Linked DNA regions of Homo sapiens: regions 1 and 2 are each linked to region 3. Evidence: fine-mapped expression QTL. A gene starts in region 3. Each other region holds a variant in brackets. All regions are shown on one strand. Distances are between the middles of the regions.

Evidence for each region. PIP is the estimated chance that this variant, and not a neighbour inherited with it, causes the effect.
Region 1: its variant is the best candidate, but not a certain one, in a credible set for the expression of KIAA0319 in cerebral cortex (GTEx, PIP 0.52).
Region 2: its variant is the best candidate, but not a certain one, in a credible set for the expression of KIAA0319 in putamen (GTEx, PIP 0.77).

The regions. Positions count from the first base shown.
Region 1 is chr6:24,536,913-24,541,157 of GRCh38, reverse strand. ALDH5A1 (aldehyde dehydrogenase 5 family member A1) reads right to left here. Exons shown (of 10, transcript NM_001080.3): 10 at 3,951-4,245. LOC124901277 (a long non-coding RNA gene) reads left to right here and starts at 1,106. Exons shown (of 2, transcript XR_007059507.1): 1 at 1,106-1,143; 2 at 1,478-4,245. It also overlaps a transcript of KIAA0319 not described here. RefSeq lists an enhancer at 1,392-2,591. The variant C/T (reference allele first, on the strand shown) is at 2,247.
Region 2 is chr6:24,590,680-24,594,924 of GRCh38, reverse strand. The region is part of intron 3 of KIAA0319; the gene reads left to right. Among named protein-coding and RNA genes, the nearest start is that of KIAA0319, 53 kb to the left of the region's middle. The variant C/T (reference allele first, on the strand shown) is at 1,977.
Region 3 is chr6:24,644,427-24,648,671 of GRCh38, reverse strand. It overlaps KIAA0319, which reads left to right and starts at 2,481. Exons shown (of 21, transcript NM_014809.4): 1 at 2,481-2,936. RefSeq lists a silencer at 2,427-2,636.

The DNA of each region.
Region 1 (4,245 bases), 110 kb after region 3:
TATCCTTTTTTTTTGCATGTATATAATAGTGAAAGGAAAGTTTAAAAAAGCTACCAATCTTGCCAAGTTACTTTCAAAGTCATTTATGAAGAGGTACTGCCAGGGATTTCCTAGGTAGAGATGAAACAGTTCTGTATCTTGATTCAGGTGCTGCCTACACAAATCTAACTATTGATGTGATCAAATTAGGTAGAGGTGTACAAACACTCACATACAAATGAGTGCACATAAAAACGAGTGAAATTGGAATAAGGCCTGGATTAACAGTTTTGCACTGGTATCAGTTTCCTGGTTTTGATAATTGTATTACATAGGTAATAAGCGAACCACTGGGTGAAGGGTACACGGGACTCTGCATTATCTTTGCAACTTCCTATGAATTTATAATTATTTCAAAATTAAAAGTTTAAAGATGTTGAGAAGGAAAGGCCAGATCCACATATCAACAGTAAAATAAGCATTTCCATTAAAATCAGGAACAAAGTTAAGAAAGGAAAAAAAAAAAAAGAAACAAAGTCACCATTTCTCCAACTAATTGGTCCCTAGAGCCTCTCTTGTTGAGTTGAGATTAGCAAGCAGCAAAGCTTCCTTTATTTGAAGCCTACATGGAGAGTATTATCACCTCCATTCTCCTAAAGATGATGAACCCAGAGTTGCAGGACTGAGACTTTATTGCAGCAGGAAGAGAGCACATAGGCTTATACGGTCATGCCTGGCATAGTGAAATTTCTGTCAGTGATGGACTGCATATATGATTTATGGACCCATGAGATAATGGAGCTGAAAAGTTCCTGTCACCTAGTGATGTCGTAGCCATCATAAAGTCCAATGCAGCCCAATGCATTAATCATGTTTGTGGTGATGCTGGTGTAAACAAACCTGCATTCTCAGTTGTATAAGAGTATAGCACATACAATTATGTACAGTATATAATAAGTGACTATGCTACTGGTTTACGTATTTATTATACTGTACTTTTCATTGTTATTTTACAGTGTACTCCTTCTACTTATTAAAAACAGTTTATTGTAAAACAGTATGTGGCTGGGTGCAGTAGCCCACTCCTGTAACCCCAGCACTTTGGGAGGCTGAGGCTGGAGGATTGCTTGAGCCCAGGAGTTTGAGACCAGCCTGGACAACATGGTGAGACTCCATCTCTATAAAAAACATGTTTAAAAGTTAGCTGGGTGTGGTGGCGAATGCCTGTAGTCTCAGCTACTCAGGAGGCTGGGGTAGGAGGATCTCTTGAGCCCAGGAGGTCAAGGCTGCAGTGAGCTGTGATGGTGCCGGTGCACTCCAGCCTAAATTACAGAGTGAGACCCTGTCTCAAAAACAAAACAAAACAAAACAAAAGAAATACTGGGTTATACCAGCAGTATAAACGTGTCTTGTTTACTGTGCCTCTTGATTGCATTATTTTCTCTTGTGCTTCAATTAATCTCGTGTTGCTTTGTTCATCACGGTCCCTTTGTCATAGAAAATCCACGGCTATTGTTGCCAGTAAGAGGCCACATCAAGTGACTGATCTTGAAACAAGAGATTAAGGATTACCAACCAATGGGTAAAGGAGTTACAGCAGCTTTTAAGGCCCACTGCCTGAGGAGGAGCAGCTTTGCTCAGGTTATTACTGCAACAAAGGAAGACACGGAGAAGACGCTGATGCAATTCTGAAAGGATTACATCTACGACTCCATCAGGACCCTTGCTTGGGCTTGGGGTGATGTTACCAAGGAACGTATAAATGACATCTGGAAGAAGACACTCAAGAGGTTCATCCGTGATTTCAAAGGATTTGCCAAGGACAAGGAGGTTGCAAAAACCAACAAGGCTGTGGTTGAGATGGCAAACAATTTTAACCTGGGGGTGGAAGAAGAAGACATTGAGGAGCTCCTACAGGTGGTTCCTGAGGAACTGACTAATGAGGAGTTGTTGGAACTGGAACAGGAACACATACCTCAAGAAGAGGCAAGGAAGAAAAAACTGCAGAAGAAAAAGAATCCCCATGAAAATTCACAGTGAAGAGCTGAGAAGTTTTTGCAGACCTCAGTAAGCGCCTTAAAAATTCTGAAAACATGGGCCCCTCAACACCAAAAGGGTTTCATTAACAGAGAGGAATGTTCTTTATGCACTGTCTGCTTACAAGCAAATCTATGATGAAAAAGGAAAGCAAGCAAACCACCATGGACATATTTCTGATGCATGACATCTCCTAAGAACCTCAGGTAGGTCTTGTTATCCTAGCTCCA[C/T]GTTTTTTTCTTTTTTGAGTCAGGGTCTCACCTTGTCACCCAGGCTGGAGTACAGTGGTGCGGTCACGGCTCACTGCAGCCTTGACTTCCCGGGTTCAAGCGATCCTCCTGCCTCAGCCTCCTGAGTAGCTGGGACGACAGGCACGTGCCACCACACCTGGCTAATTTTTGTATTTTTTGTAGAGACAGGGTTTCGCCGTGTTGCCCAGGCTGGTCTTAAATTCCTGGGCTCAAGCGATCCGCCTGCCCTGGACTCCTGAAGTGCTAGGATTACAGGCGTGAGCCACTGGGCCCAGCTGTCCCTGCGTGTTATTGCCCCTGAAGACCTTCCAGCGGGGCAAGATGAGGAGGTGGGAGATAGAAATATCCATGAATCTGACCCTTTGTAGGCCTAGGCTAATGTGTGTAATTGTGTCTTAGTTTTTAACAAAAAAGTTTAAAAAAATTTAAAATATAAAAAAGCTTGTGGAACAAGGATATAAAAAAAGAATATATTTTTATACAGTTGTGCAATTAGTTTGTGCTTTAAGTGCTAAGTGTGATCACAAAAGAGTCAAAAAGTTAAAAAATTTTAAAAATTTATAAAGTAAAAAGTTACAGTAAGCTAAGGGTAATTTATTATTGAAGAAAGAAAAATATTATTTAATAAATGTAGTGTAGCCTAAGTGTAGAGTGTTTGTAAAGTCTAGAGTAGTGTGCAGTCATACCTTAGGCCTTCACATTCACTGTCACTCACTGACTCACCCAGAGCAACTTCCAGTTCTGCAAGCTCCATTCACGGTAAGTGCCTTTTACAAGTGTAATTTTTAAATCTTTTATACTTGATTTTTACTGTACCTTTTCTATGTTTATATACATAAATACTTGCCATTGTCTTACAACTGCCTACAGTATTTAGTACAGTAGCATGCTGTGCAGGTTTGTAGCCCTAGGAGCAATAGGCTAGACCGTATAGCCTAGCTGTGTAGGAGGCTGTACCATCCAGGTTTGTGTAAGTACTCTACAGTGTTCGTACAAGGACGAAACTGCCTAATGACGCATTTCTCAGAATATATCTCTGTTGTCGAGCAATACGTGATTGTAAAATGTGAGACGACATTTGCAAAAATGTCCACTAACCACTGGGCAGCAGTGCTGTCTGTGTTCTAAATTATGGTGAGGGCTGGCTACAATGGTGCACTCCCATAATCCCAGCACTTTGGGAGGCTGAGGCGGGAGGGTGGCTTGAACCCAGGAGTTTGAGACCAGTCTGGGCAACACAGTGAGACCCTGACTGTTCAAAAAATGAAAGAAAAATTAACTGAGTGTGGTAGCAGGTGCCTGTGGTCCCAGCTACTCAGGAGGCAGAGGTGAGAGGCTTGTTTGAGCCCAGGAAGTCATAACAGTGGGGCGTGTAGGAGAGAGAGATAGGCCAATCTGTGACGGCTGGCCTATACACCTTTCTGTGACCGCCACCTCTGCAAACCAGGTAAATTCTCAGTTCAGCTTAGCAAACATTCTATAAGCGCACACCATGGACAGGCCCTTCTCTGGGTTTTAGGGCACATCATTTCACATGCTGGCTCCTTCCCCAAGGCACTCACTGATTACGGCTCTCTGGGGGAGGGAGTGCTATTTACACAAATGCAAACTGGTCTAATATCATCCAATAAAAACTCAAAAGATCACCAAGTAGGGGGAAAAAAGCACAACCAGACACCTTAATACAGGGAGAGGAAATTCTGTTAATTCCACGTTTATTAATCACACAGCTCTCTGCAGACTAGACACTAAAACACACAATTGTCAAAAACTAGAAAAATGAGTTATGTCCACGTTTTAAAAGCAAAACTTTATAAATTTCTTACCACACTCATTCCCAAGTTTTATCCCACAAAGTATAGCATGAAACAATGACAACATACATATTATTCAAGTAAAATGCTATTTAAAATAGCTGCACACAGGTAATTAAAACACTAGGATCCAGTTTTTAGAGGAAAAAGTCATGTGGCACAAT
Region 2 (4,245 bases), 54 kb after region 3:
AGTTGGAGAGCTCAGAGGTTGCTTGTTTGGAAACTGGTCAGGACTTGAGAATGTGGTGAGCATGTTGATCAGAGGAAGCTGAGTATAGGTGGAAATAAAGTAAAAAAAAAGCTTGGAGTACTTCAAGAATTTTTTAAAGGAAAAGTTTTCCTTCTTTAGATTCCAGTACTTATGTTAGAATAAGTGAGGAATGCTGAATTGAATTGACTATACATTATAATCTCAACCATGAAAAATTGTTTAAAAATGTCTAGAAGTCATTTTTAAGTGTTTTTTTTTTTTGTTGTTTTTTTTTTGTGAGACAGAGTCTTGCTCTGTCGCCCAGGCTGGAGTACAGTGGCATGATCTCGGCTTACTGCAACCTCTGCCTCCTGGGTTCAAGCGATTCTCCTGCCTCAGCCTTCCAAGTAGCTGGGACTATAGGTGTGCACCACCATGCCCGGCTAATTTTTGTATTTTTTAGTAGAGATGGGTTTTCACTATGTTGGCCAGGCTGGCTTCGAACTCCTGACCTCAAATGATACCCCCACCTCGGCCTCCCAAAGTGTTGGGATTACAGGCATGAGCCACCGTGCCCAGCCAAGATTGAATCAGAAGGTTTTTTTCTGCTTATATTTTTCTGAATTTTGAAGTGTCTATATTTTTCCTTACTTATAATTGGATTAAAATGAAAAAACTTTCTTTTTTTTTTTTTTTTTTTTTTTTTTTTTTTTTTTTTTTTTTTTTGAGACAGAGTCTCACTCTGTCACCCAGGCTGGAGTGCAGTGGCATGGTCTTGGCTTACTGCAACCTCCGCTGCCCAGGTTCAAGTGATTCTCCTGCCTCAGACTCCTGAGTAGCTGAGATTACAGGCATCTGCCACCACGCCCAGCTAATTTTTGTATTTTTAGTAGAGATGGGGTTTCACCATATTGGTCAGACTGGTTTTGAATTCCTGACCTCATGATCCACCTGCCTCGGCCTCCCAAAGTGCTGGGATTACAGGCATGAGCCACTGCACCTGGCCTGAAAAAACTTTCAATTAAAAATAATCTGAAAGTATTAGAGATTAACCATGTTCTTTATTCATATCAGTAAATATTAAAATAATTTACTCTCTTTCATGTTGCCAAGTCATTTACTTCCTGGTTTATACAGATGGAACTCTCTGAAATCAAGCTCTATTAAAAATCTTTTGGCTCATTAGTTCTTTGAGGTTGGTTTTGTTAAAAGATAATTATTCAGGGCCGGGAGCAGTGTCTCATGCCTGTAATCCCAGCACTTTGGGAGGCCGAGGTGGGTGGATCACGAGGTCAGGAAATTGAGACCATCCTGGCTAACATGGTGAAACCCCATCTCTACTAAAAAATACAAAAAATTAGCCAGGCGTGGCGGTATGTGCCTGTAGTCCCAGCTTCCCAGCTACTCGGGAGGCTGAGGCAGGAGAATGGCGTGAACCCGGGAGGTGCAGCTTGCAATGAGCCGAGATCGCACCACTGCACTCCAGCCTGGGTGACAGGGCGAGACTCTATCTCAAAAAAAAAAAAAAAAAAAAAAAAGATAATTATTCAAATAGGTGAAATTGTGAATTGTTTAGATATAAAATGAACACGTGTTAGAGATTTTATTCTACTCATTACTCACTGAAGGAACTAGATTATAATTATCCTACAAGAAAACCTGAAGAACAGGCACATTCATAGGTTAAAAAATATATTGAAATGAGTGTGCAAACAGAGGCAAAACTGGGTTTCCAGTGAGGAAAGGAGGGAGTTCAGTTGAAGCTCTAGCAGACAGGAGAATTTACATGTCTATAGACAAGAATTATTTTACATTTTTATCATTTTTATGACCTATAACTTACAGAGTTGTAAAAATAGCTCAAATACAAGAATGACTAGAGGCAGATAACCTGGAGAGGTATCCAGTAGATAATGTTTTTTTTTATTTATTTTTATCTTATTTTAATTTTTTGAGACAGGGTCTCACTTTGTCAC[C/T]GAGGCTGGAGTGGAGCAGCGTGATCTCAGCTCACTGCAGCCTTGACCTCCTGGGCTCAGGCAGTCCTCCCAACTCAGCCCCACAAGGTAGCTGGGACTACAGGCATGTGCCACCACACCCGGCTAATTTTTATGTTTTTGGTAGAGATGGGATTTCGCTATGTTGCCCAGGTTGGTCTCAAACTCCTGAGCTCAAGTGATCTGCCTGCCTTGGCCTCCCAAAATGCTAGGATTACATATGTGAGCCACCTTGCCCCACCGATAACATGCTGCTTTCCATTGAAATGCAAATTTTCCTCTGAAGTACATTAGATTTGTAGACAATCTCTGAATAAGTGTTCACAAAAATTACATGCATAGCATAATAAGAAGTCATTTGCTCAAGCCCAATACACTGATGCACAACTGTAATCCCAGCTACTTGGGAGATGGAGGTAGGAGAACTGCTTGAGGCTACGGGTGAGAGACCAGCCTGGGCAACAGAGTGAGACCCCATCTCTTAAAACAAAAAGAAAGAAAGAAAAGAAACTATTTCATTCTGATGCAGTGCAAAGTTTGGAATTGATGACAGAAACTAAGATCTTTTCTCTCACCAAAAAAATATGTAAAATAGTTCAATTGTATTTGGTAAAGGTATCTAGAAAATTTAATGGGGAAAGAATAGTATTTTCAACAAATGGTGTTAGGACAACTGGATATTTACATGCAAAAGAATGAATTTAGACCCCTATCTCATACCTTATTTTAAAAAAATTAACTCAAAATGGACCAACGTTCTCAATATATGAGTTAAAACTATAAGAGACATGGAAGAAAACTCAGCATAAATCTTTGTAAACTTAGGCAATTATTTCTTAGTACATCAAAAGCATAGCAATAAAATAGAAAAATGGTAAATTTGAATTAATAAAAAGTAGAAACTTTTGTATTTCAGATGACAACATCAAAAGAGTAAAGCTTTCTTGATGGAATAAATATACCATAAAATGGGATAAATATACCATAAATATTGTATACTGAATATATAAATAACTCTTACAACTTAATAATTAAAAGACAAATAACCCAACTCAAACATGGGCAAAGGATCTGAATAGACTTTCTCCAAAGATCATAGAAGAATAGCCAAGAAGCACATGAAAAGATGCTCAGCACCATTAATCTTTAGGGAAATGCAAGTCAAAACCACAATGAGATACCACTTCACATCTACTAGATGGCTAGAATAAAATCTAAAAATAGATAATAAGTGTTAGTAAGGATGCAGAGAAATTGGAACTCTCATACACTGCTGGTGGGAATGTGAGATGTTGCAGCCACTTTGGTTTGTTTTTGATTTTCGTTTTTTGAGAGACAGGGTCTTGTTCCACACCCAGGTCAAAATGCCACGGTGCAGCATGGCTTACTGCATCCTTAAACTCCTGGGCTCCAGTGATTCTCTCACCTCAGCCTCTTGAGTAGCTGGGACCACAGTGCCCAGCTAATTTTTTTTATTTTTATTTTTGTAGAGATAGAGTCTCACTCTGTTGCCCAGCCTGGTCTCAAACTCCTGGGCTTAAAGAATCCTCCTGCTTTGGCCTCCTAAAATGCTGGGATTACAGGTGTGAGCAATTATGCCTGGCCCCAGTGTAGCTGCTTCGGAAGACAGTCTTGCATTTCCTCAAAATGTTAAATGCAGACTTAACCATATGACCCAGGAATTCCACTTCTGGGTATTTACACAAGAGAAAGAAAACATGTCCATATAGAAACTTGTACATGAATGTTCATAACAGTACTATGCATAAAATAGTGCCATTGAACAGGGTATCTAGGAAAAATAAATCAAGATCAAACTTGTAGAGGATAAAGGACATTTTTTGCAACTGTGTTTTCCTGTGGACAAGACTAGAGAAATCACCTAAAACAAGTTGTTTTAAAGTAAATGAGTAGAGAACATAGAAACAAGAGCCATTTGAAACTTTTGCTGACGAGGCCCAGGTTAACTTGAAGGCTGAAATGGGTGATGCTGGTGCTCAGTGGCTTCCATAGAGGATTGATTTTTCTTTGGAGGGGTTTGTCAGAGAGGACCTTGTGTCCTGATGACTTAGTGAGTAGTTCTGTGGTGGAGGTTGTGGGTGGATTACTGAATAGTGAAGGGAAGAATTGGCATGTGATTCCAGCCTGGAGAGGCAGCATGGTGGAAAAGTGAATGTTTTAGAGAAGAGCAGGATGAGAGGTTTCTTCCCCTTCAGCCATTTCTGGCTTAGTGACCTTGGCCCAAGGTGCC
Region 3 (4,245 bases):
TTTTTTTTTTTTCAGTCTCAACCTCCTGGGCACAAGTGATCCTCTAGCCTCAGACTCTTGGGTAGCTGGGATTACAGGTGTGCACCACACACCCAGCTACTTTTTATTTGTTTTTGTTTTTTGTACAGAGAGGATCTTGCTATGTTGCCCAGGCTGGCCTCGAACTCCGGGGCTCACTCAATCCTCCTGCCTCGCCCACAAAGTGCTGGGATTATAGGCATGAGCCACTGTACGTGGCCTAAAGTCTTGTATTTCAATGAGGCAGCACTGTCATTACGCTAAGCACCATTTTTACCACTGATGTGGAATGTACTTTAACCTTCCTAAACCTCAGTTTTACCCACCCTCAAAATAAGTTATCTTTTATTGTACAAATGTCCCAACCAAAAGCATAAGCAAGAGCAGACAAAGTTAATTATACTAAGGATACATCATTTTATCCTTACTACCTCTTGCAGTGTCTGGCATATAGTAGGAGCTCAATGGATGTCCACTGAATGCTGAAAAGAAGTGAAAGGTAGTAGCCTCACATCTGTGTCCTAAAGAAGGAGACTAACATTTTCATACAATACCAAAATAGATATATTCATTAAAAATGAAAATAGATATTCATTACAGTGTCTCTGAGTTAAAAAGATGGTATAGTTAAACATTCTGGGCTAAGCCTGTGTGTGTGTGTATGTGCTAAAAATATGTTTCTTTAAAGGCTAATCAGCCAAGGATCGTTGGGGACAAAATCAGATTCATTGGCTTGATGCATTGAAAGAGTACCTGTGGAATGCCATGTGAGCACAGAAAGGAGGAAGTGTCTTTTGTAAAGATTTGGCTTCCTATTAAAGGATTCCAGGGAGAGTCTTGGAATCAGAGCTGGGATCCAGTTGGTTGCTGTTTCTGAGGCAGATTGAGAGAAAGGGGGATTAATGAGGGATTGGGTGCTGTCAGGAGGTGAAGGGAGTTTAGCAATTGGGTATCCCCAGTTATGGATGGGAATAGTAAAGCAAAGGTAGAAAGTAGTAGTCATTCAAAAATGGAACACAAGGAGTTGTGTTGTTTTGTACCTGCTGCGTGACTTCAGAGGAAACAACATTGCCTGTTAATTTTGCTTCTGACTTTGTCCTCTCAGCCTGATCATTGATCATTGGCAGTACTAACTTTTCCAAGTCCAAGCTGATTTTCACTCTTTGAGTCCTGGACAGGTTTTTACTCTTTAGTTTTTATTTATTTATTTATTTATTTATTTATTTATTTATTTATTTATTTATTTATTTTGAGACGGAGTCTTGCTCTGTCGCCCAGGCTGGAGTGCAGTGGCACGATCTCGGCTCACTGCAACCTCCGCCTCCTGGATTCAAGCGATTCTCCTGCCTCAGCCTCTCAAGTAGCTGGAACTACAGGCGCGGGCCACCACTCCCGGTTAATTTTTTGTATTTTTAGTAGAGACGGGGGTTTCACCGTGTTAGCCAGAATGGTCTCGATCTCCTGACCTCGTGATCCGCCCGCCTCGGCCTGCCAAAGTGCTAGGATTACAGGCGTGAGCCACCGCACCCAGCTGGTTTTTACTCTTTAAATGTGCATTATCTTATTTGATTCCCAGAATCATCCTATATGAATGCTATTATCTTCATTTTATAATTGAGGAAACAGGTTTATCTAGATTAGGTAACTTGTCTGAGGCTCTTCGGTAAATACGAGTAGCCAAGAAGCTTATTCATCAACAGTGTGTGACTCAGCCCTAAGCACTGCACTTATACCTCCTAGTAATGAGATGTGCGAGGAATGCCCTGGCTACCTTTTCTGCTCATGATATTATCCCTAGATGCTTTCGCATCTTTATTAAAACAGTAAAAATGCAAGAGTCTTCCACCCAAGTTTTCTGTGGTTTAGATTATCACGTTCCTCAAGATGCAAATGTCAAACTATACTGGGCATCCAGTTAACCTGCAAGGCCTGGAGGTGATGGGAGCCCCTCCTAGCACAGGTTCCCAGTCTCAGTCAGAAAGCACCTGCTCAAAATAGAAAGATAATTACAGAGTAGGGGCCAAAGAGACTCCCACTGGAAGAATGGAACTTGTGTAGCTGGGGTGACACAAGCTGGGGACAAGCTGGGGGACACATTCGCGAAGGGTGTTTGACCCAGGCAGTGCACCCACGGCTCCCTTGAGCCACCCTGGCCCGGGTGTTTATTTGGAAGGAGTGTTCATCCCCCAGACTGTTTAGGGCCACGGTGACAGGGAAGGGCTTGGTGAAGGAAAGCAGGTAGGGTATGAAGGCCGCTCAGGTTCACGAAAGACTTTTGCTTGGTCCCCTGCGGGGTGGGAGTGTGTCGCCCCGGTGCGGGTACTTAGAGCGCAACCGGGGAGCTGAGCAGGGGAGCTGAGCAGGGGAGCTGGGCAGGGGCGGCTGCCGCGCCCCACATCCCTGAGGGCGTGTGTGCGCGTGCGCGCGCGTCGCCGTGGTAACCGCGGCGGCGGAAAGGCGCTGAATCACTGGCGCGCGCTTTCCCCGAGCCTGCAGAAGCTGCCGCGGGCGGTGGGCGGGGATCCCCCGGGGGTGCAACCTTGCTCCACCTGTGCTGCCCTCGGCGGGCCTGGCTGGCCCCGCGCAGAGCGGCGGCGGCGCTCGCTGTCACTGCCGGAGGTGAGAGCGCAGCAGTAGCTTCAGCCTGTCTTGGGCTTGGTCCAGATTCGCTCCTCTGGGGCTACGTCCCGGGGAAGAGGAAGCGAGGATTTTGCTGGGGTGGGGCTGTACCTCTTAACAGCAGGTGCGCGCGCGAGGGTGTGAACGTGTGTGTGTGTGTGTGTGTGTGTGTGTGTGTGTGTGTGTGTGTGTGTAAGACCTGCGATGACGACGAGGAGGAACAAGTGGGACGGCGAGTGATGCTCAGGGCCAGCAGCAACGCATGGGGCGAGCTTCAGTGTCGCCAGCAGTGACCACAGGTACGGTATCTACTTCCCAGAGCGCCTGGCCGAGAAATAGGAAAGAGGGCAGCCAGTAGGCAGGCCAATACCCAACAAAAGTAGAATCGAGACGCCCTGAGTTCAGAAGGTGAGTTTCTTAAGATTCTTCTGGGCATTCAGGAAAGGGCATTTTTTGATTGCTGCACTGATTGTTGACTAGTAGGGTGGAGTCGGGGAAATTTGAGTGTCTTTTCCCAACCTCACGAATTGCATTTTTTTAGAAGTAAGGAATCGTTTTCTTTAAACTTCATTCAGAACTATTTATGTGATCTTTCCTATTATTTGCTAAATGCATTTTGTCTCTGTTCCTTACCATAACCTGAAGCTTAAAATCTTTCTCTTCTTCCCTTTGAATTCCCTCCAAGGAATGTCACAAATTAATCGGGAGGATAAACCTGAAATTTTGAGAGTTATCATCTTAAGGTCATTTGTTAATTAAATACAAGGAGGAAAAATATGATATACATACTCATGTGCACTTTTATTGCTGGTTTGTTCATCAAAACATTTTTGTTTGTCGGTGAAATGTTAGTATTTTTTCCACTGCTTGAATTGAAAAGTTGAATGATGTTTTTGATAGTAACAGAAAAAATAAATTGTAGACAATGTTCCCCCCCACACACAAGAATTTTGGAAGTAAATGTTGGTATTTATTTCTTTATTCCTGAAATACATGCTCACTTTCCAAATGCTTCAATTTATTATAAGAAGACCACAATTGTAGAGACTACTAAAGTTATGCCAAATCTAAACTTTTATTTTGTGCTTTTTTTAGTATTATTTTTAATTCAGATGAGGAAAACTGGAGGTGTCAGTTCAGTTATAGACGTAGGAGTCACAGAGAAAGGTGAATTCCTCTGTAATTTGAAAAAGGGAAATGTAAACATATTACCTAAGTACTCTGATTTATTTGTATTAACCATTTGTAATGCATTTGCATTTGTAATGCAAAATGCCGAGGCAAGAACTTAATTTTTGTTTCGAAATAATGAAAATAATTCAGCCAAAATCTTTATGAATTAAAAATAGCCAAAAGAGAGCTTTGGTAATGTATGAATGTAAAAGAATAGAGTTGCTGTTAAATTTTCTTGACTTTTTTTTTTTCCCTAGCCAATAGATAGGAAGCATTCTCTTTAAATAAATACAGTAAGTCCTCACTTAACATTCTTGATACGTTCTTGGAAACTGTGAACCTTTAAGCACAACGAGGTATAAGGAAACCAATTTTACCACAGGCTAATTGATATAAACAAGAGTTAAGTTCCTACAGCATATTTCTGGTCATAAA